Homo sapiens: one gene and its partners. The protein of the gene in region 5 purifies or fractionates together with the protein of the main gene of each other region. This does not show direct contact. Each region holds a gene or a part of one and is shown on either strand. Other genes may lie near its edges.

Region 1 (4,237 bases), on a different chromosome or scaffold from region 5:
TCAGGTGCACTGACCAAGTATCTAAACAGGCTGACCTCAGGTACTCTATACCCGGGAAGCCAGGATCCTAATAATGCACCTACTAACAGGTATATTTTAAGACCAAAAAGGTGAGAGCACTTCCCTTAAGAAACCCAATTTACAGTACACTTAGAAACCCTAAATTTGCTGACTCACACTATGTCTCAATGTGTACATTAGAAGAATAAATAACCCAAGATGAGTGCATGTACTTTGTGACTAGTATTTTTCACATATGAAAGATAAATATTTAACCTCTCTCTTTCAAAAAAAAAAAAAAAAGACCTTAGAACCATTTATTTTTTAAAATGTCTGTAAGAAAAGGGAAAATACTTCAGACTATTTTGGACTTCAAATTCTATCATCTAAAATTTCAAAACCTGACCTTAAAACTCACTTCTACTTTCTTAGAAACAGCAACTACGCCACCCACAGGGCAGCTCAAAAGCCTTTAAAAACGGGGGACGGCACTTTCCAGGTGTGAGCTGGCAGGTTGTTTAGAACCTAGGGTGCACGCAGGCTGGAGGGCATGATTAATTAAAACTATGAGTCCGGTGGATCAAGTGGGCGTCAAACTCCCCTTGCTCTGCTGGGAGGCGGCCACCGGGGGAAGGACACAGCGGGCCAGGTGCAGCTGGGAACACCCAGCATCCACAACAGCACAGACCTCACCACTCAGCCTTCTCTGCTTTGGGTTCCAAGAAACCCCACATCTCCAGAAGTGAGGCTGGCATCACATCAAAAGGCCACCAACCAACTTGTTTTCCACTTAGCAGCAAATAATCTACGTGACTGAGAAACCCTGCTGACGCTGAGGGAACTCGCTCACTGTAACTGAACGTGGAAAAAGTCAAACCATCAATCCACATGGCACTGCGCCGCGCCTCCCACCCACGACAGCCTCCTCAGGTTACACCGTCCACCCAGAGCACATGGGCGGGGAGAAGATGAGGATCTAAGACCACGCCTCAGGGACGCCACTCCTGAGTCACACCTCAAGCCAACGTGAATGACGAGACCCTCGGGTGTCCGGGCCTACGGCCTCATCCTAAAAAGTTCACAAGTGCTCAGCGGGCTCTTCAAAGCAGGAATGTAACAAGGTTGGCTGGAGTAAGGCCTTTGCCAGCAAATCTGTAAGAGGGGCAGCAGGCCTGTGATGTCTCCTACTGGAAAACACCTTGGGTGGGCATCCCTCATGCCAAGACAGCCCTGCCAGGCCATGGATCTAGGCAGGCTCTGAAACCCCGGCCTAAGCCAGGAGCTCAGCAGGTGACCCCAGCACCCACTGGGACACTGTCCCACGGTGGATCTGGGGAGGCTGTCTGCTGATATCTCCCAGACCCAGAACCATGCCCCTGACAGTCCTGCCAGCTGCCTGGAGTTTGCAGCCCTGGATCTCAGATGTTCTAATGGTAACCACTTTAAGAAACCACAGGCTTACAACGTTATTTTTTTTTTTTTTTTTTGAGATGGAGTCTCACTCTGTCACCCAGGCTGGAGTGCAGTGGCACGATCTCTACTCACTGCAACCTCCGCCTCCTGGGTTCAAGCAATTCTCCTGCCTCAGCCTCCCAAGTAGCTGGGATTACAGGTGCACCCCACCATGCCTGGCTAATTTTTGTGTTTTTAGTAGAGATGGTGTCTCTCACTATATTGACCAGGCTGGTCTTGAACTCCTGACGTCGTGATCCGCCCACCTCGGCCTCCCAAAGTGCATGGATTACAGGCGTTGAGCCACCATGCCTGGCCACGACAAACAATTCTATCGAAGAACGGTTAGGACTTCCCAGGCAATGAACTGAGAGACTCTGTTTTGTTTTGATTTTTAACAGAACTTAGGTTTGTGTTCTGGACGTTAAGTGAGAGTGACCTTCAATTATGTTCCAGAACGGGGCACCGCATGCAGTGCGCGTGCCGGAGGAGCAGGAGGAAAGCTAGCAACTGCTTCTCAGTGTTACTATCAGATAGCAATACTAAGGCAGAGGGAGAAGGGAAGATAACCTTTTCCAAGTATTTTTTTCAGGAATTTTTGCACAAATCCCATTCTCCAGACTTTATATGGTACATCGATCCTCTGCAAAGCTTTGCTTACTAATATTAGAGGACTAATTAGGTGTTTTTTTAATTACAGATGAATAAAAATAAAACTTAATACATTAAATGAATATTCTTGTCTTTTGAGAGACAGGACAATGAACATCTACGGATTCTGTTTAAAATGACAAACACGTGAAGTGCAATCACGTCGGCCTGCTCCTGCGGAATGTCGGTGTGGAGGAAACGTCCTCTCAGCAGGAAGGAAGCCGTGCAGGGCTTGCGACCTCCTCCCAGGGCCAACGTGCAGAGGGCCACCAACCCCAGGCAGGCATTCCCCGGCAGGGCAGAATGTGGAGCCTGGGAGAGCTGTTCCCATCTGCTGTGCTCCTCGGCCAGGGCAAGGGAGCAGCTCTCAGCTCAGCAGTGGGATGGGGCCGGCTGGCTCTGTCCTCAGGGACATGGACAGGCAGGTGCGCAGCAGCCCTGGCCCTCCGGGGGTGGTTCTGGGGGTCACATGTGGCCTGGGGAAGAGAGGGCCCGCACATCTTACCTCTGTGCTCCAACCCAGGGCCGCTGACACCCCATCCCTGGTAGAGGGTCGCAAAGTCCTTTGGAATGTACGTCTTAAAGATGTTGAGGATGTCCAGGCGCTTCTCATGCCCCTCGGCCACCGGCTCCTGTTTGATGGAGTGTAGGACGGGGGGCGCCCCAGCCACGCCGGGCTGGGCCTGCAAGGCCGCGTCGCCCCTGGACCCCGCAGCACAGGTGGCCAGAGTCCTCAGCTCCTGGGCTGCCTTCGAGGGGGGCTCGCGGGGAGGTAGAGGAGGAGCGCCCCCTTCGCCCTTTGCAGGAGGTGGACCCTGAGGCTGAGCACTGAATTTGGCTTTCAGGGAGTCCGGGGCACTGTGCTTATTTGTGGGGGCAAAGCCAGCCCCCGCTGGGGGGACCCCAAACTTCTCCACAGGCTTGCTATTGGCCGAGGGCTGCGCGCCAGCCCGGGCGATGACGGTGGGCGTAGGGGTGGCGCTCCTGCTGAAGCCCCCGCCACCCGGGGCAGGCACCGGTTTGGAGCTAGCCTCCTGCCTGGGCTTGGCCAGGGGCCCCTGTGTGGCCGCGCCATGTGGCTCCTGGCCGTGACAAGGTTTGGTCTGTCGATACCCGTCAGGGCCGGGCGCCCACAGAGCGCAGGGACCTCCGGAATGGCTCTCCTTATTCTTAGGCATGCTAGCGGCTTTTGTGACCACTCCCAGGGGAGAAGAGCCACTTTTGGACCCCGGCATCCCCCCTGGCACCTGAGTGCGGGTGAACCGAGCAAGGAGCAAAGGCTGGCATTCTTTGCCACCGAGGGCAGGCGGGGGGCCCGTGCGTCCGCTCCGGGAAAGGAAAACCAAATTGCTTCTGATGCTTTTGTAACCATTGGGCTGAATCCACGGGGGAGCCACGGAGTTGCAGCTGACGCGGTGCCAGATGCGTTTGTGCATCCACAGGACCTCGGGGTAGTAGGTCTTGTGGCTGCAGTAAGGACACGGGTGAACGACTAAAGCCGCCTGCAGGGAGGAGGCCGTCTCCTTATTGCTGGGGTCATCCCGCGTCGACCTCGCACTTAAATCTAGCGGCATGAGGTCTGGGGCCAGCGCCCGCTTCCCTCCCCCAGAGTGTTCCTTGTTGTGCAAATCGGACAGCTTTTCTGCAGGGTGACCCGTCTGGCCCTCCGCTCCCGTACTGGAAGGGAACTCCACACCATCACCAGGGACGGGCACCTCCTGCTTGGGGTGAAATGCTGGCATCTTTAAGTCCATAGAAAATCTGTGCTGCTCTTGCCTTCTAGAAGTCTCTCTGCTACTGTTTTCAAGTATGGACACAGAAGCTGCGATCCCTGCCTTGGACTCGCCGGTGTCTCTTTCCGAGGCGTTATCTCCCATCTTGTGACTCTGGTCTCCACTGGAGAGCTCGGTCGAAGTCACCTCTTCGGAAAAGCAGCAGCGGCGCGGCTGTCCCCCTAGAGGAGGCAAAATATGAAACGGGAAGTTACCATTTCTCATCAGAACACAGCAAGACACACGGTGCGTACAGCTACAGCATGTTCCAAGCCATCTGTCTTCAGCGGGAGAAGCCACCCTTGAGTCTGGGTGGCTCTTAGAAAACCCCTGAGGAGCCACCCAGACAAGAACAAAAGGGG
Region 2 (4,237 bases), on a different chromosome or scaffold from region 5:
CCATCCAGGTGGTCACTTCCTCTGGGGCCTTACGGCACATTTTACAAACATCTCTTATAACTCCTAATGTTAACAGTATTAAGTGGTATTTACTGAGCACTTACTGTGTGTCAGGCATTATTATAAGTGCTTTTAATGGATTAACTTAATGACTCCACACAAAATTCTGAGGTAGGTGCAAAGATTCTCATTTAGAGGGAACTGAAAAACAAGAAGGGTAAATTGCCCAGGGCTTGAATGGAAGAACATAACTGGGTCCAGGGAGTCCAGCCCAGAGCTGACAGCCATACTGCACAGCAAGGTGACTGCTGGTCACTGTTCTCAAAGACTGAAGTATGGCAGCAACAGCTGTTCTGTTTTGCATCATCTCTACTCTTCCAGAAGGCAGTGCATTGTAGGAAGCCTGGCTCAACCAATGTGAGATGAAGAAAGGGAGAAGTTTTGGGATAAGATGATGCCAACATGGGGCAAGAGCCAATACCACTGCCTTCAGGAGCAGACAGGCTATTTCCTAGCAATGAAAGATAAGAAATTCCTAGGTTTGTTTAGAAAATGTTACTCTGGTACCTAGGAACGGAGGAAGGCTATGCACACCTGAAGTCCCCAAACCTCTTCAGGGTGTCATCTGAAAACTTTGCACACAAGACCAGAGGAGATGGAATGACAGAATTTCCCACAAAATGACAGTAAACATTCCAGTCTGTCAAGCAGAGACAAAGAAGTATGGCGAGAGTGGCTGGATATGGGGCAGACAATGGATAGAGGTATCCTGAAAAAGAAGTCTGTAGCCCAACATCTGGTTCTGCCAACTCCCACAGGCTGCTAGCACTCACCGCAAAGCAGCCAATCACATCGTTCTCTGCAAACTTGTCTCCGTAGTTTTCAAACCGGCTATTGGTGGACTTCTTCCCAGTGCCTCCATAGCCATAGGAGAAAGGCTCTTCGCCTGACGGAAGAAATAGGCAAAGGCAGGTTAAACCTGCGATGGTCATAACAGCCTCAATGGCTGCCACATACTTTTATTTTTGAAGAAAAAAATCATTTTCTTTACTAGTTTTATTAATCAGATGCCTTTTTAAAATAGGGGTGGGGAAGGGTGAAAGGAAGCCCTTAATGATGTAGAACTTGGAGGGCTTGATGGGTTTCATTGTCCAGTCTGGGAGTAGGAGCTCAACTGAATAACTCTGCACAGAGGGGAGAATTTGAAAAGAAAGGGAGGAAGGAAGACAGGAGTTGGGATGGAGGAGAATGGCTGTATGCTGAGATGCAACCCTTCCTTGTGACACCCAATATTCAGTCCAGTCTACTTGTGGTAGAAATCAGTGAAGGGGCTGGATTTTGCTCCTGGAGACCATGAGGACTGACCCCTGGGAAAGGTACTAGATTTCCTCAGGCTACAGAACTGGGTGCTGAAGTGATATGACTGAGAGATCCCAAGGGCTCTGGCTGACACCTGAGTTAGAGATTCCGGGCAGAACCCAAAGAGTATGCTGTTAGAAAAGCAGGGGCCGACAAGCATGAATGCCAGGGCTCGTTCTGCTACAAACCAGCTATGTGACCCTGGATATGGTGCTTGACCTCCTGGGCTGTTTCCCCATCCCTATCAACTGCCACCACCTACATCTCAAAACGGAGACAGAGATAAGATGAGATGACTTATGAGTCTTAAATAAAAAGTGCTAACACATATGGAAATGAAAACTGTATACTTTTTTTTTTTGGTGCTAACATATCTACCTTTTTGAGGAGGTACCAATTTATGGGGTACATGTGCAATTCTGTTACATGCACAGATTGCATAGTGGTCAAGCTTTTAGGGTGTTCATCACCTAAAAAATGTACATCGTACCCATTAACCAATTTCTCATCCTCCTCCACCTTGTTACCCCCTAACACTTCTGAGTCTCCATTATCTATTATTCCACTCTCTAAGTCCATGTGAACATATTTTTTAAACAAACACTTGTGAGTGAGAATATCATCTATTTTTAAAGATTAGTCTTAAGTGGTCAGGCAATTATGGACCAGGATAATGGCTCAAGTGTTAAAACAGCAAAAATTTGCAATAAGTTTAAATGAGCTACAGAAGGGGACTTGTTAAATAATGCAACTATAAAATGGAAAATTATGCAGTAGTCAAAAAGCTGCAGTTATTTACAAAAATATGCCCATCATACATTAAAACAAGGCTATACAAAGTAGTCCTAGTGTGATCCAGTTTAAAGATGTACAAAAAAATAAATGTCCAGAAGACTACAAATGGAATGTTAACATTGGTTAGTTTCTCTCACAGGTTTAGGAAGGATTTTCATTTTTCCCTTTCTGTATGGCCTGAATTCTTATACGCAACACATATTATTTTCATAATTGGAACGTTTGTATGATCATAAACGGAAGGCAGGAGGTGTCAGCATTGGTCAGAATAATCAGTCACTTGGGACCAGAAGGTCATTGAAGCCTGGGGACCCGCAAAATTCAAAACCTTTCAATAGGCAGCCCCTGCCCCTCTCCCAACTAGCCCTGGCCTCACTGGTCTCTGCTCCCCTTTTTCCTCTAGGTTAGGCTCCGGACAGAAAATACAGACAGAACTTAATGGAGCTTGGGAACTTATCAGCAGCTTGGTTTAAGGGCAGGAGACACTGATCCTTTTTACAGAAAGGGAATAGATTCCTAAAGAGAATTTTGGACCCTCTCCTAAAAGATGAAGGATAAGAATTGATTCTTCACAGAAAAGTTGTTTCATGACCATAGTCCTCTCAGTTGAATACAGCATGACAGAGACAGTGGCATATACCTAATCCTTGTACCTGTTCCACTTCAGCCTAGTTCTATTCTAAGTCTGACGCTGGAAAAGGAAGCTTAGGAGCCTTGAAAATCCAAGGGTAGGGACAGTCACTCTATTCTCTGGACTGCATAGCTGACCCCTCCTTACCTAGCTGGGTGCTGCAGGAGTCCAGGGACCAGCCGATACGGACCACGTGGGGGTCAGGCTCTGTAGACGGAAGGTGCTTCACGGAGATTTCCTCATTGATCTGAGGAAAGAGGACAAAAGGGCTCAGGGTTGCTTCTCTGGAGGCCGTAGGTTATGAGCCAATATAGGAGGGAAGCATATCAGGCATTAAAAAATAGCAATGGCTTTTCTTGCTGGAGAAGAAGCGTTTAAGCAGCTCTGAAAAGCCTGTTGAACCGAATCGAAGCCAGGGCCTCCAAAGGGATCAGTAGAGTACAGGGCCACAGAGACAGGCATTTCAAAATACGGTTATGTTTTAGTTTAAGAGACTCTTGTAACATCTAGTAGAAAGATAAACTGTTACAGTGTCTTTAGAGGGCAATCTAGAAGTCTCTATCAAAACTGTAAATGGCTGGGGATGGTGACTCACACCTGTAATCCCAACACTTTGGGAGGCCAAGGCAGGAGGATGGCTTGAGGCCAGGAGTTAGGAACCAGCCTGGCCAACATAGCAAGACCCCATCTTTACAAAAACATTAAAAGAAAAAAACAACAAAACCCCATAAATGCACATGCTCTATAACTCAGCATCCTATAGATACACTAATATGTGGACAAGTATGTCTACGTATGTGTGACTGTATTTGTATATGCAACATTCTGTGCAGCATTGGATGTATATATGTGCACATATATATATATATATATATTTTAACATCAGAAAAAATATCAATAAAGCACTGATTATGGTATATCCATGCCACAAAATATGATGCAACAGTTAAAAAGAGCAAAGTAGGCCGGGCACGGTGGCTCAAGCCTGTAATCCCAGCACTTTGGGAGGCCAAGGTGGGTGGATCACCTGAGGTCAGGAGTTCGAGACCAGCCTGGCCAACATCATGAAACCCCGTCTCTACTAAAAATACAAAAAATTAGGCATGCGTGGCGTCATGCACCTGTAATCCCAGCTACTTGGGAGGCTGAGGCAGGAGAATCGCTTGAACCCAGGAGGGAGACGTTGCAGTAAGCAGAGATTGCGCCACTGTATTCTAGCTTGGGTAACAAGTGAAACTCCGTCAACAAAACAAAACAAACAAAACAAACAATCAAACAAACAAAAAACAAGGAGCAAAGCAGTACATTGGGCTAATGTACTGCTATGGAAAAATGTCCAAGATACAGTATTAAGTTAAAAAAAAAAAAAAAGCCTTCTGACTTAATTTCGTATTAAAAGACTAGACTGCCGAATATCCGTATCTACCTGTGGCCTCACTGGCTTTTCAGACA
Region 3 (3,929 bases), on a different chromosome or scaffold from region 5:
TGTTCTCATGGGTTTCAAAGAACATCTTTATTCCTGCCTTCATTTCGTTATGTACCCAGTAGTCATTCAGGAGCAGGTTGTTCAGTTTCCAAGTAGTTGAGCGGTTTTGAGTGAGTTTCTTAATCCTGAGTTCTAGTTTGATTGCACTGTGGTCTGAGAGACAGTTTGTTATAATTTTTGTTCCTTTACATTTGCTGAGGAGTGCTTTACTTCCAACTATGTGGTCAATTTTGGAATAGGTGTGGTGTGGTGCTGAAAAAAATGTATATTCTGTTAATTTGGGGTGGAGAGTTCTGTAGATGTCTATTAGGTCCGCTTGGTGCAGAGCTGTGTTCAATTCCTGGATATCCTTGTTAACTTTCTGTCTCATTGATCTAATGTTGACAGTGGGGTGTTTAAGTCTCCCATTATTATTGTGTGGGAGTGTAAGTCTCTTTGTAAGTCACTCAGGACTTGCTTTATGAATCTGGGTGCTCCTGTATTGGGTGCATATATATTTAGGATAGTTATCTCTTCTTGTTGAATTGATCCATTTACCATTATATAATGGCCTTGTCTCTTTTGATCTTTGTTGGTTTAAATTCTGTTTTATCAGAGACTAGGATTGCAACCCCTGCCTCTTTTTTTGTTTGTTTTCCATTTGCTTCGTAGATCTTCCTCCATCCTTTTATTTTGAGCCTATGTGTGTCTCTGCACGTGAGATGGGTTTCCTGAATACAGCACCCTGATGGGTCTTGACTATTTATCCAATTTGCCTGTCTGTGTCTTTTAATTGGAGCATTTAGCCCATTTACATTTAAAGCTAATATTGTTATGTGAGAATTTGATGCTGTCATTATGATGTTAGCTGGTTATTTTGCTCGTTAGTTCATGCAGTTTCTTCCTAGTCTCGATGGTCTTTACATTTTGGCATGATTTTGCAGCGGCTGGTATCAGTTGTTCCTTTCCATGTTTAGTGCTTCCTTCAGGAGCTCTTTTAGGGCAGGCCTGGTGGTGACAAAATCTCTCAGCATTTGCTTGTCTGTAAAGTATTTTATTTCTCCTTCACTTATGAAGCTTAGTTTGGCTGGATATGAAATTCTGGGTTGAAAATTCTTTTCTTTAAGAATGTTGAATATTGGCCCCCACTCTCTTCTGGCTTATAGAGTTTCTGCCAAGAGGTCAGCTGTGAGTCTGATGGGCTTCCCTTTGTGGGTAACCCGACCTTTCTCTCTGGCTGCCCTTAACATTTTTTCCTTCATTTCAACTTTGGTGAATCTGACAATTATGTGTCTTGGAGTTGCTCTTCTCAAGGAGTATCTTTGTGGCGTTCTCTGTATTTCCTGAATCTGAATGTTGGCCTGCCTTGCTAGATTGGGGAAGTTCTCCTGGATAATATCCTGCAGAGTGTTTTCCAAGTTGGTTCCATTCTCCCCCTCACTTTCAGGTACACCAATCAGAGGTAGATTTGGTCTTTTCACATAGTCCCATATTTCTTGGAGACTTTGTTTCTTTTTAATTTTTTTTCTCTAAACTTCCCTTCTCACTTCATTTCATTCATTTCATCTTCCATCACTGATACCCTTTCTTCCAGTTGATCGCATTGGCTCCTGAGGCTTCTGCATTCTTCACGTAGTTCTTGATCCTTGGCTTTCAGCTCCATCAGCTCCTTTAAGCATTTCTCTGCATTGGTTATTCTAGTTATACATTCGTCTAATTTTTTAACTTCTTTGCCTTTGGTTTGAATTTCCTCCTGTAGCTCGGAGTAGTTTGATCGTCTGAAGCCTTCTTCTCTCAACTCATCAAAGTCATTCTCCATCCAGCTTTGTTCTGTTGCTGGTGGGGAACTGTGTTCCTTTGGAGGAGGAGAGGTGCTCTGCTTTTTAGACTTTCCAGTTTTTCTGCTCTGTTTTTTCCCCATCTTTGTGGTTTTATCTACTTTTGGTCTTTGATGATGGTGATGTACAGATGGGTTTTTGGTGTGGATGTCCTTTCTGTTTGTTAGTTTTCCTTCTAACAGACAGGACCCTCAGCTGCAGGTCTGTTGGAGTTTGCTAGAGGTCCACTCCAGACGCTGTTTGCCTGGGTATCAGCATCAGTGGCTGTAGAACAGCGGATTTTCATGAACCACAAATGCTGCTGCCTGATCGGTCCTCTGGAAGTTTTATATGAGGAGTACCCAGCCGTGTGAAGTGTCAGTCTGCCCCTACTGGGGTGTGCCTCCCAGTTAGGCTGCTCGGGGGTCAGAGACCCACTTGAGGAGGCAGTCTGCCCGTTCTCAGATCTCCAGCTGCGTGCTGGGAGAACCACTACTCTCTTCAAAGCTGTCAGACAGGGACGTTTAAGTCTGCAGAGGTTACTGCTGTCTTTTTGTCTGTGCCCTGACCCCAGAGGTGGAGCCTACAGAGGCAGGCAGGCCTCCTTGAGCTGTGGTGGGCTCCACCCAGTTCTAGCTTCCCAGCTGCTTTACCTAAGCAAGCCTGGGCAATGGCAGGCGCTCCTCCCCCAGCCTCGCTGCTGCCTTGCAGTTTGATCTCAGACTGCTGTGCTAGCAATCAGTGAGACTCCATGGGCATAGGACCCTCTGAGCCAGCTGCAGGATATAATCTGGTGTGCCATTTTTTAAGCCCATTGGAATTGCGCAGTATTAGGGTGGGAGTAACCCAATTTTCCAGGTGCCATCTGTCACCCCTTTCTTTGACTAGGAAAGGGAACTCCCTGACTCCTTGCGCTTCGTGAGTGAGGCAATGCCTCGCCCTGCTTCAGCTCATGCACAGTGCACTGCACCCACTGTCCTGCAGCCACTGTCTGGCACTCCCTAGTGAGATGAACCTGGTACATCAGACGGAAATGCAGAAATCACCCATCTTCTGCGTCGCTCAGGCTGGGAGCTGTAGACAGGAGCTGTACCTATTCAGCCATCTTGGCTCCACCCCCCATAATCTCATCTACTAGACAAGCTGAGGCAGGAAAATGGCTTGAACCCGGGAGGCAGAGGTTTCAGTGATCCGAGATCATCACATTGTATTCCAGCTTGGGTGACAAGCATGAAACTTCATCTCAAAAAAAAAAAAAAAGAATTGATTGAAAATTGTTATAGGCTATGCCACATTCTTCACAGGTGTAGGGTTTCTATCCAGTATGAATTATGTGTAATAAGGGTTGAGAACTTCCTAAAAGCTTTGTCACATTCTTTATATTTGTAGTGTTTGTGTTCCATAAATTCTCATATTTAGTAAAAGTTGATAGCTGGTTAAAGTCTTTCCCACATTCATCAAACTCATAGGGTTTCTCTCCAGTATGAATTATCTTATGTCTAGTAAGGGTAGAGGAGTGTCTAAGGCTTTGCCACATTTTCACATTTGTAGGGATTCCCTCCCATATGAATTATCTCATGTCTACTAAGGTTTGAGGATGAAATAAAGGCTTTGCCACATTTATTGCACTTGTGTGGTTTCCCTCCAGTATGAATTTTCTTATGTCTAGTAAGGGTAGAGGAGTACTTAAAGTCTTTGCCACATTCTTCACATTTGTAGGGTTTATCTGCAGTATGAATTCTCTTATGTGTAGTAAGAATAGAGGAGCACTTAAAGGCCTTGCCACATTCTTCACATTTGTAAGGCTTCTCTCCAGTATGAATTTTCTTGTGTTTAGTAAGGTTAGAGGAGCGGTTAAAGGCTTTGCCACAGTCTTCACATTCGTAGGGTTTCTCTCCAGTGTGAATTATCTTATGTGTAGTAAGAATAGAGGACCGACTGAAGGCTTTGCCACATTCTTCACATTTGTAGGGTTTCTCTCCAGTATGAATTCTCTTATGTTTAGAAAGGGGAGAGGAGTGCTTAAACACTTTGCCACATTCTTCACATTTGTAAGGTTTCTTTCCAGTATGAATTATCTTATGTGCAGTAAGGGAACAGGAGTACTTAAAGGCTTCACCACATTCTTCACAT
Region 4 (4,237 bases), on a different chromosome or scaffold from region 5:
TATTATTACCATTTTATGATTAAGTGCATCGAGGATAGGAAGTTAAGAAGCTTGAATAATTTTACAACTAGGAAGTGCCTGGTGTTTTTACTGAGGGCTAAAACAAGTATTTGGCCTGGTTACTGACATAGGTGAAGTAACGTGATATACGTTAAGCATGTATACACACTCACACGCACACACGTCAGACCCCAGGAAAAAACAAAAACAAAACACTTCACAAAATACTCACGGTTATTAATCACAAGTCCTGGAAATGGTCTAAAGAGAGAAACAAATTGTAAAGTATAACAATTTATTTTCACTCTGTAAGAATTTACAGGTATAACTGTTTATTCAACTCATATCTAGCCCACGTCATTTACGTACTACAATGAGAAGTATTATCCGTGACCTTATAAGCTTATGGAAGAGATAGATACGTATCAATAATAAGAACACTGTTAGAAAGTGTTAAGCTACTAGTAAATGGAGGAAAAACAAAAAATAGAAACGCAGAGCAGGGAACAGAGTGATTCTAAGTTTAACATACGGAAGAACGGAAGGGGCTTTTTGCCTAACTCCTGGGAGTGATATGGAGAATGACGGTGGGTGAAGTGGAACCAAAATATGAGATTTTGAGGGAAAGAAGATTGGAAGAAGACGAGTGTATGAGAAGCCTCAAGAGGATTTATTATGAGATTTCTGAGTGCCAGTTCCAAGAGACCTGAACTAGAGACAGTGGCAATCTGATGATGAAATGATTGGGTAGGTTGAGTCGTAGCTGTTTCTGGGGGGCTGGAAGACAAAGGGGAAGATAACCTGGGGTTGGTGCTCAGGTGGGCATCTCTTACAGTGACAAGGACGTGGGAAGGAATGTGGCACTCACAATGGTGTCAGAGGTGAGTACAATCATCATGCCTGCTCTACGGGAAGGAGCTGACACTCTCAGTGGGAACAACGATCAATCTCATTTACAGACAAAGAACAGAGTGACCTGGCTAACAAATGGCTGATGCAAGGTTGAATCCGTCTGACCCGAAGCCTGTGACAAGGCGCCCTAAGACAGAGGTTGACAAAGTTCTTTTTTTCTTGTGATGGAGTCTCACTCTGTCGTCCAGGCTGGAGTGCAGTGGCATGATCTTGGCTCATTGCAACCTCCACCTCCTGGGTTCAAGCGACTATCCTGCCTCAGCCTCCCGAGTAGCTGGGATTACAGGCACCCGCCATCATGCCCAGCTAACTGTTTTATTTTTGTAGAGATGGGATTTCACCATGTTGGCCAGGCTGGTCTGGAACTCCTGACCTCAGGTGATCTGCCTGCCTTGGCCTCCCAAAATGCTGGGATTACAGGCGTTAGCCACTGTGCCTAGCTAAGGTTTTTCTACAAAGTGCTAGAGAGTAAATATTTTAGACTTTGGAGGCCATGCCTTCTCAGTCCCAGCTACTTACTCACTGTGACAGGAAAGCAGCCATGGATAATACGGGTGTAGCTGTGTTTCAGGAAGACTCTAAAAATAGGAGGCAGCCTGAATTTGGCAAACAGTCCTAGTTTGCCAACCCTTTGCCAAAGAATTAAAAGAGTCAGCTTAGTTCGTAGAAGCACATCTGACATTCTAATGATGACACAAGTTATTTTGATTTGTTGATTGCACAGCATAGGAAGCCGGATTCGATGACTACCTGTGGCTGCATTTTAGAAGAGTCAGCCTCATGAGCTCCAGATTCGCTCCTGTGACTAAGCAGGAAACTCTCACTTACCTAATGACCGTGAATTTGATAAACTCGGCAGAGTCTAAGATCCTTCTCATGGAGCTGATTTCCAGGTAGCTGGGGGCTTTGAAGGACACCCCCGGGGGCATGCCATCAACTACCACACAGCCAGGGTTAATTGTGATTTTCCTGTAGGGAACTTTCACAGGAAAACCCATACCAATAGCTTCACCTACAGGGACAGTGAGACAAACAGCACAACAGCACAGATTAACCCACCGCCTTAAACAGCCTGTCAAAAGCACAAGATCAACATTTATTTTAAAGACTGTCTCTGCTGTTAACTAAGGTCTTTGTACACTTCAAACAAATTTAAATATGAACCTTAAATTTTTTTTTTTTTTGAGACAGAGTCTTGCTCTGTCACCCAGGTTGGAGTGTGGTGGCTTGATCTCAGCTCACTGCAATCTCTGCCTCCCAGGTTCAAGCAATTCTCGTGCCACAGCCTCCTGAGTAGCTGGGATTACAGGTGTGCACCACCATACCCGGCTAATTTTTTGAATTTTTTAGTAGAGACAGGGTTTCACTATGTTGGCCAGGCTGGTCTCGAACTCCTGGCCTCAACTGATCCACCTGCCTCGGGCTCCCAAAGTGCTGGGATTACAAGTGTGAGCCACACTGCCAGATGGTGAACCTTAAATTCATTAACTTTCATACTGACAATCAATAGTGTAACACTAATGGTATCTTATTAAATAAATTTAGCACAAACAACTCACTTTTAAATTTTAACTCCTTTTATATAGGATTACAACCATCCAACCATCATCTGCTGAAAAGATCTTATTAAAACAAATCTCTTTGCTTATAGCAACTGTACTTTGCAAATGCAAAACTTACCAAATTTCCGACTAAAGAGGTCATTCACTTGTTCTCTTAGCTGTCTAGCTTTTTCAACTTTCGAGAGTCTTTCATTATCATCATCTGAAACAGTTCAGAGAAAACCCAAAACTTAAATACTGCTTTTTTTTTTTTTTATGGTAAAGAGATGGTATCTCACGATGTTGCCCAGACTGGCCTTGAACTCTTGGGCTCAAGCGATCCTCCTGCCTAAGCCTCCCAAGTAGCCGAGACTACAGGTACAAGCCGCTGCTCAATGATGCACTTTTAATCCCAATTTTTAGGAGCTCTGTGTAATGTTTTCAAGCATTTTCCATTTTTTAATGATTTAAGTATTTGAGCACTTTGAGCTAATTAAATTTGAAATTGTTTAAAATAATGCCTAACTAAAAATGCTACAAATTTATTCTTGTTATAAAGACCTTTACCTGCTGTTTTATATAGATTTTTTTTTTTTCCCAGATGGAGTATGGCTCTGTCACCAAGGCTGGAGTGCACTGGCCCCATCTCGGCTCACTGCGACCTCCACCTCCCGGGTTCAAGCACTTCTCCTGCCTCAGCCTCCCAAGTAGCTGGGATTACAGCCACACACAACCAGGCCTGGCTAATTTTTCTTGTATGTTTAGTAGAGTCAGGGTTTCACCACGTTGGCTAGGCTGGTTTTGAATTCCTGACCTCAAGCGATCCTCCTGCCTCAGCCTCCCAAAGTGCTGGGATTACAGGCGTGAGCCACCGTGCCCGGTCTCATATAGACTTTTTTTAAGGAACAGACTAGCCATTTGGGTGGTTAACAGGATTTAGCTCATGCCAAGTGCCAAAACTTGCCGTTGCTGTTTGGAGAGCAACTGTATTTGGAAGGCAACTGCTGTAGGAGTCTGGGAGGAGCACCAGGCAACGTGTAATGTATCCGAGTCCCCGGATGAGCTGAGCAAACCTCTCTAGTTGGGAAAGTCCAAGAGGCCCTGAAGAGACCCCCAAAAACTCTGATGGAAGCAGAGAACTCATACCTGGAATTGTCACCTGAATGATGTTAAGGTCTTCAACACCTGATGCAGTAGTATTAACATTGGGTGATGAATTTATTTTTCCTGAAAATATACATTTAAAATCAGAATTTGTAGAAAACACGGTCAACATCTCTAATAATCATGCTGTCTGAGACTGTTTTATCTCAGTCCTGTTCAAGGTTCTTTCTTTCCATGGTAGATCATTTCAAGAAGACATGATGCCCCCTGAAGGGCTGCCTTTCACTGTTTTTCTCTTCCTGGGGGTACTTAGGAGATCATCACACACTCACAGAGCCACCCAATTATTAAATAACTAAAAATTGTGAAATAGCCTGAACTACAACTTTGAATGGGTTTTCTTTTTTCTTTTTGAGATGAGTCTTGCTCTGTTGTCCAGGCTGGAGTGCAGTGGTGCGATCTCGGCTCACTGCAACTTCCGCCTCCCGGGTTCAAGTGATTCTGCTGTCTCAGCCTCCTGAGTAGCTGGGATTATAGGCGCCTGCCACCACGCCTGGCTAATTTTTTATATTTTTAGTAGAGACAGGGTTTTGCCGTGTTGGCCAGGCTGGTCTCAAACTCCTGACCTCAGGTGATCCACCCACCTCAGCCTCCCAAAGTGCTGGGATTACAGGCGTGAA
Region 5 (4,237 bases):
ACATTGGCACAAGGGAAAAATTAGCTGGAGATGATCAACAGCTGTCCCCTTTAGACAGGGCATGCTTTTCTCATTTTACTGGGCCCTGGAGATTTAAGTTTGAGATCCCAGGTCCGTGTGATGAGAAACAATTATGCATAAAATAATAGCAATCAAATATTACAAGATAATAGATGCTGCATTGCTGGATTATGATTTGAGGCTATGAGCAATAATTGGGAGAGGAGGAGATTACTGAGAATGGAATAGTCAGAGAAAATTTCAAATAAATGGTTTGCTTTGAGGTGGGCTTTGAAGAACTACGACAGTCAAGAAGAAACAGAAAGGAAATCCAGACGAGAGGAAAAGTAAACTGCATACTCCATGAAGGCAAGGGTCCCACCTAAACTGATAGTTTACCTAACCTAAAGTGGTAAGTTTACCACTATCACCTCAGCTTCTAGCATGATGCTTCCAACTTTGTAGACACCCAGTAAATGACTGTGGAGTGAAGGAGAGTAACATAATTTTTAAAAGTGTTTTAAGGAATATATCCTTGCAGTGGTCCTCAGAGTAGAGAGGGCAGAAAGAATCAAAGTAGAACTAGAAGCTATTGGAATATTCTATGAGTACTGCGGTAAGAGCTTACATAGGTGCCATAATCTCAATATCTAGACTAGGGGTCAGACAGGTTAAGGCCACCTAGGCCAGATGAGTAATGTGGTGAACAAAAAATACAAGTACTGTTTTAAAGGGGAGGGAGGGAGAGGCTCATCAACTCTAGGCAATTATTGCCAAGAGAGAATGCTGGTTCAGTATCTTCTGATTAGTCAAAAGAAACTGGAATTGAAGAATTTTTGTTTTCTTTTGAGACGGAGTTTCACTCTTGTTGCCCAAGCTGGAGTGCAATGGTGTGATCTCGGCTCACTGCAACCTCCGCCTCCCAGGTCCAATCGATTCTCCTGTCTCAGGTTCCTGAGTAGCTGGGATTACAGGCATGCACCACCACACCCGGCTAATTTTGTATTTTTAATATAGATGGGGTTTTACCATGTTGGTCAAGCTGGTTTCGAACTGCTGACAGGTGATCCTCCTGCTTTGGCCTCCCAAAGTCCTGGGATTACAGGCATGAGCCACTGCGCCCGGCCTAGAATTCTAGAATTTTAAGGGAAATCTGATTTTGAAATATTGGCAATCAACCAACTTTTAAAAGTGTGGGACTAGGCAATTTGACACACTGCTATGAACTGACTTGTGTTGTGTCCACTCTCCAAAAAAAAATTAATAGGTAGAAGACCTAACCTAGTGACTATATTTGAAGATAGGGCCTTTAGGAAAGAAATTAAGGTTAAATGAGCTCATAAAGGTGAGGTTCTGATCTGATAGGATTAGTGTCTTTCTAAGAAGACACACCAGAGAGAATTCACTCTTTCTCCTCCCATTTGTACAAAGATCACATGAGTACAAAGTGAAAAGGTGGCCTTCTACAGGTCAGAAAGAGAGTCCTCATGAAAATCTGACCATGTTGGCACCCTGATCATGGACTCCCAGCCTCCAGAACTGTGAGAAAATACATTTCTGTTGTTTAAGCCACTCAGTCAATGGTATTTTGTTATGGCAGCCTGAGCTCTCTAATGCACTGCTTACAAAAGTTTTTATTGTTATTACAAATAACACTGCAAAAGTTTGGAAATAACTTAAAGATCAATCAACAGAAAACTGTTTAAAAATTTGTGGCTCATGCATATAGTAAAAACCTATGCAGTCATAAAAAAGAATGAGGCATTTAAAAAATGTGCATATATGAAAATATCTCCAAAGTATATTTTTAAGTAGACAAGCAAGTTGTAGAGAACAATATGCAGAATGTGTTACTATCTGTGTATAAAAGGTGAAGGGGATATATATATACACACACACACACAAACACACACACACACACACATATATATATAATAGAAACTACCTCATAAGGTTGCAGTGAAGAATAAGTGTGTTAATTTTGTAAACACTTAGAAGAAGGCATGAAAGTGAAGTAAGCAGTGAGAAAATATAGTTGTTGTGGTACTTACATATATACTAATATTATATATGTATTATATATAATATGAGCTCATCTAACCTTAATTTCTTTCCTAAAGGCCCTATCTCCAAATACAGTCACAAGCTTAGGTATTAGGTCTTCAATGTATGAATTTTTTTGGGGGGGATGGGGGGGTCACAATTCAGTTCATGTCAGTATGTCAAGTTGCCTAGTCCCACACTTTTAAAAGTTGATTGATAACCAGTATTTCAAAATCAGATTTCACTTAAATTCCTAGAATTCCAGTTTCTTTTGAATAATCAGAAGATACTGAACCATATATATATATATATATATATCCATCTATCTATCTATAGAAAACCAAACATGATTTCACATTATCTTTGAGTAAACAAATGAGCCCAATACTACAATGTTATTCACACACACACACACACACACACACACACACAAACATACTCATTGCTTGATATACACTAAATATCCCTGGAGAGATTCCTAATAAATAGATAACATTAGTTGCCTCCAGCGAGGCAAAATGGGTGGCTAGAGAACAGGAATAGGAGGGAGACTTTTTTCACCATGCACCCTTTAGTAAATACTGAATTTTGAGCCAGGCGGAATGCATTACCAATTGAAAATGCATGTTTTAGTTGAAAGTTTTTAAATTTTAGGGAAAACAAAACACGTGTGAGCTTTAGTTGGTCTGTAGGCTAATTGTTTGCACGTCTCGCCTAAATTAAGGTGGTGGCAGTTAGAATAATAATAAAGAAACAGATACCAGATACAAAGGGGAAAAAATACAACAGCCATTGGCATCTAATTAAATGAGAAAATGAGGAAGAGGGGAAAGGGACATGAGTACCACAACAGCTACATTTTCCCACTGCTTCACTTTCATGCCGCCTTCTAAGTGTTTACAAAATTAACACACTTATTCCTCACAGCAACCTTATGAGGTAGTGTCTATTATTATCCCCAATGCACAGATATGACAACTAAAGTACAGAGTTTAAATAAGTTCACCATTACTATGGTCATAGTAAGTTGCAGAACCAGGGAAGTGAAAGGAAGAGTCTTGAATGAGGAATGAGTGAAGAGTCCAGAGGTGATGATGGGCTGTATATTAGAAATGGTGAGTGTGAGGTTACAACAAAATGTCAAATTGCTAGTGATTTGAAATATCTGGATTGGGCTCTTGAGTTAGGTTATTGCTCCTTAATAATCCTAGAGCTTAGTTTGCCCACATCACATCTATTTTGTCTAAATACACAAATAACATCTTTTAGTATATTATACAGAACATCTAGCACCTTTCATATATTTAAATCCAGCTTCCTGTCCACTAATCTACATTCCACTTCTGCAAACACACAGCAGCATTTAAATAAAACAAATTTTTTTAAATAACAAAAATGATGAGACCGCAACTTATGAAACATATTAGATATCAGGCACTGAGTTCAATGCTTTCCTTACATTATTTATAATCACAAATTATCATGTCATTTTAGAGATGAGGAAACAGGCTAAATGATGAAACTCAGTTGAGGATAGTAAACATTAGCATATAAAAATCAGGAAGAGGTTGGGCACGTGGCTCATGCCTGTAATCCCAGCACTTTGGGAGGCTGAGGTGGATGGATCACCTGAGGTTGGGAGTTCGAGACCAGCCTGACCAACATGGAGAAACCCCGTCTCCACTAAAAATACAAAATTAGCCAGGTATGGTGGTGCATGCCTGTAATCCCAGCTACTCAGGAGGCTGAGGCAGGAGAATCACTTGAACCTGGGAGGCGAAGGTTGCGGCAAGCCGAGATCACGCCATTGCACTCCAGCCTGGGCAACAAGGGCGAAACACCGTGTCAAAAAAAAAAAAAAAAATCAGGAAGAATACCAAACATGATCTCACACTGTCTTTGAATAAACAAATGAGCCCAATACTACAATGTTATTCCCTTATTCATACTCTACTTAACAATAAGATGGTAATCATACTAGATGATCATCTATGTCAATCATCCTAATTAAGTTTTCCTTCATTCACAAAATCATGGCATTGTAAAGCTAGATCTTAGAAGATCATATACTGCCCCCACCGCACCAGGCACAGACAATCTGGCAAGATCAAAAATGACTAGGCTCTGTTTGCTACTTTGGTTATTGGAATTCACTTAGCCAATGAGAACCCCACCTCAGAAATGCATGTATTAG
Region 6 (4,237 bases), on a different chromosome or scaffold from region 5:
CTGAAATCAAAGGGCAGGCTCAGGGACCCACAGCCAGCGCTACAGGTGGGGAGGGCAGATGTCACGGTCTGCTCCAAATGAAATCTAAGCCGCTGTGAAAAGCCACACGCATCCCGCATCACACAGCACTCAGCGTCTGTGCGGCTGGCACCTTCATCTTCTCACTGTTATTCAGCAGCACATTCCGCAACTCCTTAGAAACCATGTAGAGCTGCCTTTTCTTCCCTTCTGTAGTCCGAGTTAACAAATTCATCCTTGGGAATGAAGGATCCAAAGCATAAAATTTCCTGTACATAACAACATTGTTGTTTATCCACAATGAGTTCAAAATCTGGTAGACTGTTTCTAAACATCTTATTCTCCTCCTCCAGAATTCAATCCCCAAAACTGCAGTGTGGTTCAAGGGCACTGGGCTCTGCTCTGGACTCCAGCTTCTAAACTTCATCCACTTCCACCTGAAACCTCCACGTAACATTTATTTGGGGCACAACTCCATCAGAAACCTAAATTAACAAGTGCAGCTTCTCTCCCTCAGCCGCTACTCCAATGATAATGACCTGATAACACTACTTTTGAGACTTTTTTTTTTTTTTTGATATGGAGTCTTGCTCTGTCTTCCAAGCTGGAGTGCAGTGGCGCAGTCTCAGCTCACTGCAACCTCTGCCTCCCGGGTTGAAGCGGTTCTCCTGCCTCAGCCTGAGTAGCTGTGATTATAGGTGCACGCCACCACACCTAATTTTTTTTTGTATTTTTAGTAAAGACGGGGTTTCACCACATTGGTCAGACTGGTCTCAAACTCCTAACCTCATGATCTGCCTGCCTCAGCCTCCCCAAGTGCTGGGATGTGCCCGGCTGAGACTTATTTTTTAATAGACTTTTACAAATGTATGCAAAGGACCAGTTATTAAAAAAGACAGTAAGTGACCGCCCTGGTAAATAGATTCTAAAATTCAATGAATAAGAAACAGATGAATGTCAGACTTGTCCTAAACCCTTTTCCTCTATATTCTGTCTATGTCATCCCTAATTAGCCCTCACCCATGCTGCTCTTCATTTCTTCTACAGAAACTGAACTAGACAACCTTGGCTACTCGTCTATATACTCAATTGAGTAATTTAGGTTCAGGATCACAACTAATTTAGATTCATAATCACAGTCCAGTTTTCTTTTGTTTTTTTTGAGACGGAGTCTCGCTCTGTCGCCCAGGCTGGAGTGCAGCGGCGCGATCTCGGCTCACTGCAAGCTCCACCTCCCAGGTTCACGCCATTCTCCTGCCTCAGCCTCCAGAGTAGCTGGGACTACAGGTGCCCGCCACCACGCCCGGCTAATTTTTTTTGTATTTTTAGTAGAGACGGGGTTTCACCGTGTCAGCCAGGATGGTCTCAATCTCCTGACCTCGTGCTCCGCCCGTCTCGGCCTCCCAAAGTGCTGGGATTACAGCCGTGAGCCACCGCGCCCGGTCCAGTTTTTTTTTATCTATCATGTTCACAAAGTAAAAGTTTACTTTCTCCTTAAATTAAAAGATTGAGTAACCTCTAAAGTTTCATCCTGCTCTAATATGCAGTTAAAAAGGTTAAAAAAAAAAAAAAAGCTAGACAGAACTACATACAAAACAATGGTTACATGTGATCAGTTGTACATTTGATACTCTATAGTAAATTTCTTTAAATGAATAATTAAAAAGGCTGAATCCTTACTCAATAGGTGGAAATAATGGGTCATCTTCAGGAATAAATACAAATGGATCTTCTTTAAATCCAAATAACTTCATTTTCTTTGATGGAGGAGGACTAAAAAGGGAATCAGGATGAGACAAATCAATCTGTAATGTGTGGTAACCTTCAATACCAAAAGCACATTCTTCCTTTCTGTCAGTTCTGTGCAACATGGAACGGTTTGCGGCAGATGTTGAAACCTTCCGGCTTCCACAGAGTCCAGCCCTCACACTGCATGTGCCTGATACCACACATGTACTGCCCCCTCAAACCGACCAAGAAGTGGCTCTGGGATCCCATTTAATCCAAAAGGACTGTGAAGACACCAGCGTATTAGATCAAGACATAACCACTTTTCTTACCCACACACGCCATCTTTCTTACTGCCATTATTCTCTAAATCCTCAGTTGCATGAGCTATTTCTGTGTCACCAGTTCCTGTGAATGACGGACTTTCCAGCTTAGAGGGATCTGTGGGTTTCCCTTCTGTGAGATCTGCAGGGCTCAGCTGTGTGCTTTCTCTGGTCTCTGCAGATTTACCCTGAAGCTGTCATAAAGAACAATTTCATTGACACACAAAGAGGAGCATTCTTTGTGCTGCTACGAAAAGTTAAAAATACCACGTTCACAAAATCCATCAGTTATATTTTTCTACAGCATTATATGTAGAGAAAGACAACAGAATTTTTTTAAAGTGTCATTTTAAATCTACTTGCTATTATAAACAAAATTCATGGACAGTTTCTTTGGAGTTAAAGCTGATTCTACCTTAATCCCACAAAGAGCATATACAGCCTGTTCCTTAGCAGAGGCCTACACCACCAGCTTGTTCTCGTGTAAAAATGCTTATCGTGCATCTGCTCTGGGTAAGGCACACTGAAGGACACAAAGTGCACCAAGCACGATTTCTAAAATACCCGGCAGGGGCAAAAAGACAAGTATATAAATAACGAGAAAGGAGGGTATGAATTGTTCTTGGGCACCTGGACAAACTGCCACAGGAACTGGGAGAAAGAGAGAGTGCCCCAGGCACCAAGGAAACACCTGCCAAAGAATGAACTTCTGAATTAGGGCCATGGTATAATTTAAATTTGGCTTTGGGAATGAGCAAAATGTTTTACTTAAAGATCTTTAAAAAATACATGTCCTTTTTAACATTTTAACAGGTCACAAAATTGATAAAAGTCGTAATTCCTCAGTCCCTATGAAGTAAGTTTAAAAATTAGGATATTTCAACACAGGCAAGTTCATTTTACTCAGAGCCACAAAGCTACTGAGCAGAGAAGCCGGGAGCATCCCAGGGAACACCTTTTATTTCCATGTTAATATAATGTAAAAAAGCAAAAACCAAAACAGATGAACCCCAAGCCTGTGAGCAAGTCAGTGAGGGCACACGCCCTTCCTGTCCAACCTCAGCTTCCCCCAGAGGGGCCTTCTTGTTGAGTCCAGCTCCAAGGGCATGTTCTCCCATCTCTGTTCTACCTCAACAACCTCATTCTGGGACCTTCAAATACCAAGGTCAGTGTGAGCTTCCCTGGCCTAACTTCTAGCCAAGTGCTTACAGGCCTCAGCACCACAACAGAACACGGCATCCTGACCATGGAGACTCTACCTGCGTTCCCAGTAGGACCAACAGCAGCACAGGCCATGCTAGCACTAGATCTGTTGAACTAAGTGAATAAGAAACTGACATAGTAACAGAAAGAGAGAAGTATTCATATTATTTAAACGAGAAAATGACAATAAGTTGTTCTAAAAAGTAAGACTATACATAAGGGGCTAATTGAAAAAATGTCAAAACCTTTCTATGTAAGTATTAACACGTCAGAAACATCAATGTAAGCCCTAATGCAGGCCAACCTAAAGCACGCGTCTCTAAGACAGGCTCCTCTGTGACTGCACTGTGCTCTGCAGCTGGGCAGCCACAAGCCTGTGGTCACTGACCACTTAAAATGTGACAAGCGCAAAGTCTAAAACACAAGCTACTGAAACCTAGTATGAATGAATGCAAAGTATCTAATACTTTACAATATAATTTCTTATACTGATTCCATGAAAATAACATTCCATCAGCGTTAAGATACCTTGTGAGACTTTTAGCCTCAAAGTGAAATACTTTCTAACCTGACAGAAAAACCCTGGTGGCGGCAGAAGTGCAGTCGCCCCCTTTGCCCGTCTGAGGCTGTACGTTCCAACGTTAAACTGCACAAACCGTGCCCCAGAAAAAGGCTGGAGCTCTTTGCGGAACTGTTTCCTTTTTGTTCCTCCAAAGCTAAGCGTTTTTTGTCCTAATTTTCAAGCATGGATCTTAAAGAAATACAGACTTCCAGACTTTGATTCCAGGCCAGGTTCTTTCATCATGGAAGGCTGATTTATGAACTAATAAATAATGCTGGCGTGATACAGGTGAGACAGCACGCATTACAAAGGACTGCGTGTTAGGATGAGGGCAACACTCCTTCACCACTGTTTCCTGGCCTGCCTTGGAAAGGAACCAGCAGGCAGTTTAGATCCATAGCAA
Region 7 (4,237 bases), on a different chromosome or scaffold from region 5:
ACCATAATATATACAAATAATGGTCACCTTCAAATCTTTATTCTATATTTCATAACCTAGTTTCTGGTGCCTATACTTTCTGAAGAAGAACTCTCCTGTGCCATAAATCTGCAACTGCTACTCACTACTCACTTACTATATAGGTACACTAGATGAATGAATCCATGTTATGGTTAATCTCATTAAATAATCTATTTGAAAAATCAACTAATACTAATAAAAGGTTAATTTCCTAAAATCTGAAACTGTCAGAAGACTTACCTGATTTGTCTGGCTACTTAAGTATGGCTCAAAATCATCATCATTTACAGCATCTTTTTGATGAATCGAACCGTTTTGTACTGAAACTAAAAAAATGTTTGTATTAGAAGTGTTGTAGTTATCTTTATGAAACTCGCAGCACAACCTAATGTTTTTAATATTTTTCAAGCCAAAAAAAGTAATCAGAAAAAATAATACTGAGTTATTTTTAAGAACCCTCTTAAGGATAAACTATTTTAGATACAAATATTCATGTGCCACAAAAACTTAAAAGTCTTTTGATACATAAGCCCAAGATTACATAAACACAAGCCATATATACACTTCCCCTTACCAAAAACTTTAAGTAAATATCCCAATCTCAACACTGTAGTGAGTAAATTGTTACATAAGAATGTTGGAAAGAGTTCCCTAATGCTATATTTGAATGTAAAATAACTATTTCAAGTAGCGTTGTAGGCAATAAAAAAGATTTCTGAATGTTCTCTACCTTTGTTTAAATCTCTAAATTATTTAGTATAATAAAGAATGAAATAACTATTTTCGATCTAATTTGTTATAGTAAATGTCTTAAATGTCTCCAGTAAAGTTTAGGCTAAAATTAACTTGAAACAATATCACAATGAATAGACTTATAATTATGAAATATCTAAATAAAGAGGGCTTTAATTCTAAGCCCCCCAGAATGAAGACTTTCACATGAAACTACAAACAAAATTAAGACACAAAAGATAGCCATAATTATCCTTGCAATACATGAGAAACAAGTCAGAGAATAATTTTGTTCAAAGGTCATCTCCATAAACACTCTAAAGTTGTTATTCTCTGGATGCTGTTTCAGAGTGCTTTTGAGCAGACTCAGAAGTAAGGTCCCGAATTTGAATCTCAAGTCCAGCACTGAGGAGATGATCTCCAGTTAGGGATTTAAACTCTCTAACCTTTGACTGTTCGCTGTTTCAGAAGGTTATGTATGAATAGTACCTACCTCATCTCATCTGATTATTAAATGACAGTGTTCAATAATCTTAAATGTAATCACATTAAATATTACAAGATCCAAATAGGACTAATATGACTTTAGAACCATTTAAACAGAAGTGTTACTAAGCTAATACTTGATGAGGTGGCACTATGTAAATATACTATTCTATACTAGTGAAGATAAAGTTGAAAGTTTCCGATGGATGTCTACAAATTAGAAACAAAAAGAACTCAGTATCTAAAGATTTACTGCTCAAAGGTACAACATCACCAAATTTTATGAAGTTAGGAGGGTGACGGGTTTAAATTGCGTATTCCTCTGTAATATAACATTTTTATTATCCTTAAATTTTCCCATGAGTGTAGAGCACCTAAAATGTAATATTATGAGTTAACAGTGGCTTGGGAGCAAAGATATACAAAATCCCTTAAATCTTTGCCATCCAATGAGTGGCAAAGATCAAAGATATGATGTTACTGTGTAAAGCATTCAAAGTAGACTTCTTACTACACCACACTGCCCCTCAGAGGCCACAAGAAGCAACCTGAAGGTCAACTTGATCCTGGCTCCACTAACATAATTTAACTATGTCTGATAAGGACTGCATCAGAACTAGGATTGAGCTAAATATGCTCCATGGAATTTAAATATGTAATAGCCACTAGAAACCAAAATAAAGAGGGTGCCTTAGGTTACTTCTAGTGCCATTATAAGGCTGGGTTATTCATTTCAGTCCAAGAGATTCTGACATACCTGTTCTCCTCTGACACTGGCTTTACTGCTCCTAAATCAAAGGTAAGTATGCATGGTCTATTACTTCTTGAAAAAAAATTCTTCACTATTACACTCATACATGTTAGTCAGTATTTGAAACAGCTAACAACTTAAAAATTATGACTAACTATCTCTCATATCCACTAGGTTCTCGAAAATCTAGTTCATACAAATACAAAAAGTGCCAGGCCAGGAGCTCAAGACCAGCCTGGGCAACACAGCAAGATCCCACCTTTACGAAAAATGTTTAGAAATTAGCCAGGAGTGGTGGCATGTGCCTATAGTCCTAGTTACTCAGGAGTCTAAGGAGGATCACTTGAGCCAAGGCATTCCAGGTTACACTGAGCTATGATTATGCCACTGCACTCCAGCCTGGGGTACAGAGTGAGACTCTGCCTCTATTTAAAAAAAAAAAAAGGAAAAAGTACTTACTTAAAATTTATCTGTATATATATATAAATATAATCCTGTTATTCTTATTTTTTTTGTTCTATTATTTCTCTTCTAAGAGGCTAGGCCTGAGAACAACCCATATACTATTATAAATACAGTCTACGGTCATTTTTAAATGATGCATAAATGTCTATAAAGTCTTAAAATATAGTACAAAAAGTCAATCTACTTTAAAAAATGTTTAATTAAAAGTACTTCACATATACCGAGAAGCAATTTGCATTAAACTAGCCCTTAAGTTTTGGAAGTGTATCTTAAAGAAAACTATCTTAAAGACTTTCGTTTTTGAATATTTACTTAATGACAAGCTAATGTCTTGGAGTCTGAAAACCATTAAATAGAAATGAAATCCAAGCTAGTTCCATAGTCTGTAAAATTTCTTCAGGGGTAAAAAGAACAGATGACTTACATGATTCTTCGCCTGTTTCCTCTGCTCTATGAAACAGAGTCAAATCAAGATAGAACATGGGCCTTAGGAGCCAGGTGATTCTTTGCTCTGGTCCTGACTACATCAAGTTAGGAAAGTCAACAGATCTGTGCATCATGTTTCCCCACCTACAAAAACAGCGACAATACCATATACCCGCTATCTCCTTACAAGGATGTTGTGAGGATTGATAAAATGAAGCCTAAAATAATGATAGTAAAGTGCTTTGAAATCATTTCTCGGGAGGACGAGGAGAGAATACAACAGAATATTGCCAAAATATAAGGCATTTTCCACTACTTTTCGAAAATTAAAACTTAGCCAAATTTAACCTAATTATTTTAAATTACAGTTGTATAAAACAATGCATACGTCTCTCCGTTGGAAGAGAGCGGAGAGGAGGAAAAAGATAAATCCTGTTCCATGAATTTGCTATTTATAAACTTAGAGGAGAAAGGAGGCAGTAAGGCCTAAGACTGTAAGTATGGCATCTGACACTTCCAACCATAGTACTCCCAAATAAAAGTACTGCACACCTTTATTCCAATAAGCAAAAATTCTACTTAATAAAAAAATAAAATACGAAGTGTTAAATTATGAACCAATAGGCAAATAATTATCCTTAAATTTCTACTATCCTTTGGTACTACTCTTGCCAAGGATAATAAAGAGTTCTGATATTTAACACAGGGACAGACTTAATTAAAAAAGAATTCAAACTTATAAAACAAGTAAACCTTGAATTATTACTTATTCTACAAAAAACATTTTTGCCATATCAAAGACAATTATTTAGAATTCCTTTTGGCTTCTGTAATGAATTAAGTAATTAAGGATATATAGAAAATCAAAGACACTAAAACTAGGTGTTAGGCTAAAGCTGTCAACTAAAGACAATTCAGAAAAGAAACAGGATCTCTGAAATTATAGTAAGTTGACTGAAAAGGATTACGTGTTCAAAACTTTAACTGACACCAACTTCTCAAGGACATACTATTTTTCATAAGCTTGCTAAGTTCAGAATTCAAGATTACTCATATTTAGAATACTGAGGTTGCAGTTCAAGAAAAATAACTTCATGAAAGTAAACAGAATTGTAAAACAATTTTACGAGCTGGGAACAAGCTAAGGCAGAAAAGCTTTTCTCAAATACACACATAGCTACTTATATCAGGTTCACTGGTAGTGTTGCCTTTGCCTTGTAATTCTCCCTGCAGTCATAAAAATACAAGTAACGTATATTTGTTATTTGTGCACTTGTAGCATCTGCCATTTTTAAGAAACTTAAATAATTAGCAATACTTTCAGGCCAGTAGCATTTTTCCCCTCCTGCCAAGGCT

The links.
Region 1: the proteins of KLF8 (region 5) and ZNF516 purify together in Homo sapiens (affinity purification with mass spectrometry; one large-scale study listed by BioGRID and IntAct). This does not show direct contact.
Region 2: the proteins of KLF8 (region 5) and HNRNPUL1 purify together in Homo sapiens (affinity purification with mass spectrometry; one large-scale study listed by BioGRID and IntAct). This does not show direct contact.
Region 3: the proteins of KLF8 (region 5) and ZNF66 purify together in Homo sapiens (affinity purification with mass spectrometry; one large-scale study listed by BioGRID and IntAct). This does not show direct contact.
Region 4: the proteins of KLF8 (region 5) and GTF2I purify together in Homo sapiens (affinity purification with mass spectrometry; one large-scale study listed by BioGRID and IntAct). This does not show direct contact.
Region 6: the proteins of KLF8 (region 5) and NSUN2 purify together in Homo sapiens (affinity purification with mass spectrometry; one large-scale study listed by BioGRID and IntAct). This does not show direct contact.
Region 7: the proteins of KLF8 (region 5) and YTHDF3 purify together in Homo sapiens (affinity purification with mass spectrometry; one large-scale study listed by BioGRID and IntAct). This does not show direct contact.

The regions. Positions count from the first base shown.
Region 1 is NC_000018.10:76,376,247-76,380,483, forward strand, and holds part of ZNF516 (zinc finger protein 516), read right to left. Parts: intron 4,058-4,237; coding exon 2,609-4,057; intron 1-2,608. UniProt on the Homo sapiens protein: Transcriptional regulator that binds to the promoter and activates the transcription of genes promoting brown adipose tissue (BAT) differentiation.
Region 2 is NC_000019.10:41,277,872-41,282,108, reverse strand, and holds part of HNRNPUL1 (heterogeneous nuclear ribonucleoprotein U-like protein 1), read right to left. Parts: intron 3,033-4,237; coding exon 2,933-3,032; intron 947-2,932; coding exon 834-946; intron 1-833.
Region 3 is NC_000019.10:20,806,710-20,810,638, reverse strand, and holds the end of ZNF66 (zinc finger protein 66), read right to left. Parts: coding exon 3,317-3,929; 3' UTR 644-3,316; downstream 1-643. UniProt on the Homo sapiens protein: May be involved in transcriptional regulation.
Region 4 is NC_000007.14:74,751,533-74,755,769, reverse strand, and holds part of GTF2I (general transcription factor II-I), read right to left. Parts: intron 3,681-4,237; coding exon 3,600-3,680; intron 2,677-3,599; coding exon 2,593-2,676; intron 1,925-2,592; coding exon 1,741-1,924; intron 262-1,740; coding exon 233-261; intron 1-232. UniProt on the Homo sapiens protein: Interacts with the basal transcription machinery by coordinating the formation of a multiprotein complex at the C-FOS promoter, and linking specific signal responsive activator complexes.
Region 5 is NC_000023.11:56,235,087-56,239,323, reverse strand, and holds part of KLF8 (Krueppel-like factor 8), read right to left. Parts: intron 1-4,237. UniProt on the Homo sapiens protein: Transcriptional repressor and activator. Binds to CACCC-boxes promoter elements. Also binds the GT-box of cyclin D1 promoter and mediates cell cycle progression at G(1) phase as a downstream target of focal adhesion kinase (FAK).
Region 6 is NC_000005.10:6,605,122-6,609,358, forward strand, and holds part of NSUN2 (RNA cytosine C(5)-methyltransferase NSUN2), read right to left. Parts: intron 2,264-4,237; coding exon 2,079-2,263; intron 1,792-2,078; coding exon 1,699-1,791; intron 288-1,698; coding exon 152-287; intron 1-151. UniProt on the Homo sapiens protein: RNA cytosine C(5)-methyltransferase that methylates cytosine to 5-methylcytosine (m5C) in various RNAs, such as tRNAs, mRNAs and some long non-coding RNAs (lncRNAs).
Region 7 is NC_000008.11:63,171,441-63,175,677, reverse strand, and holds part of YTHDF3 (YTH domain-containing family protein 3), read right to left. Parts: intron 3,026-4,237; exon of another isoform or gene 2,938-3,025; coding exon of another isoform or gene 2,880-2,937; intron 2,028-2,879; exon of another isoform or gene 1,997-2,027; intron 348-1,996; coding exon 262-347; intron 1-261. UniProt on the Homo sapiens protein: Specifically recognizes and binds N6-methyladenosine (m6A)-containing RNAs, and regulates their stability. M6A is a modification present at internal sites of mRNAs and some non-coding RNAs and plays a role in mRNA stability and processing.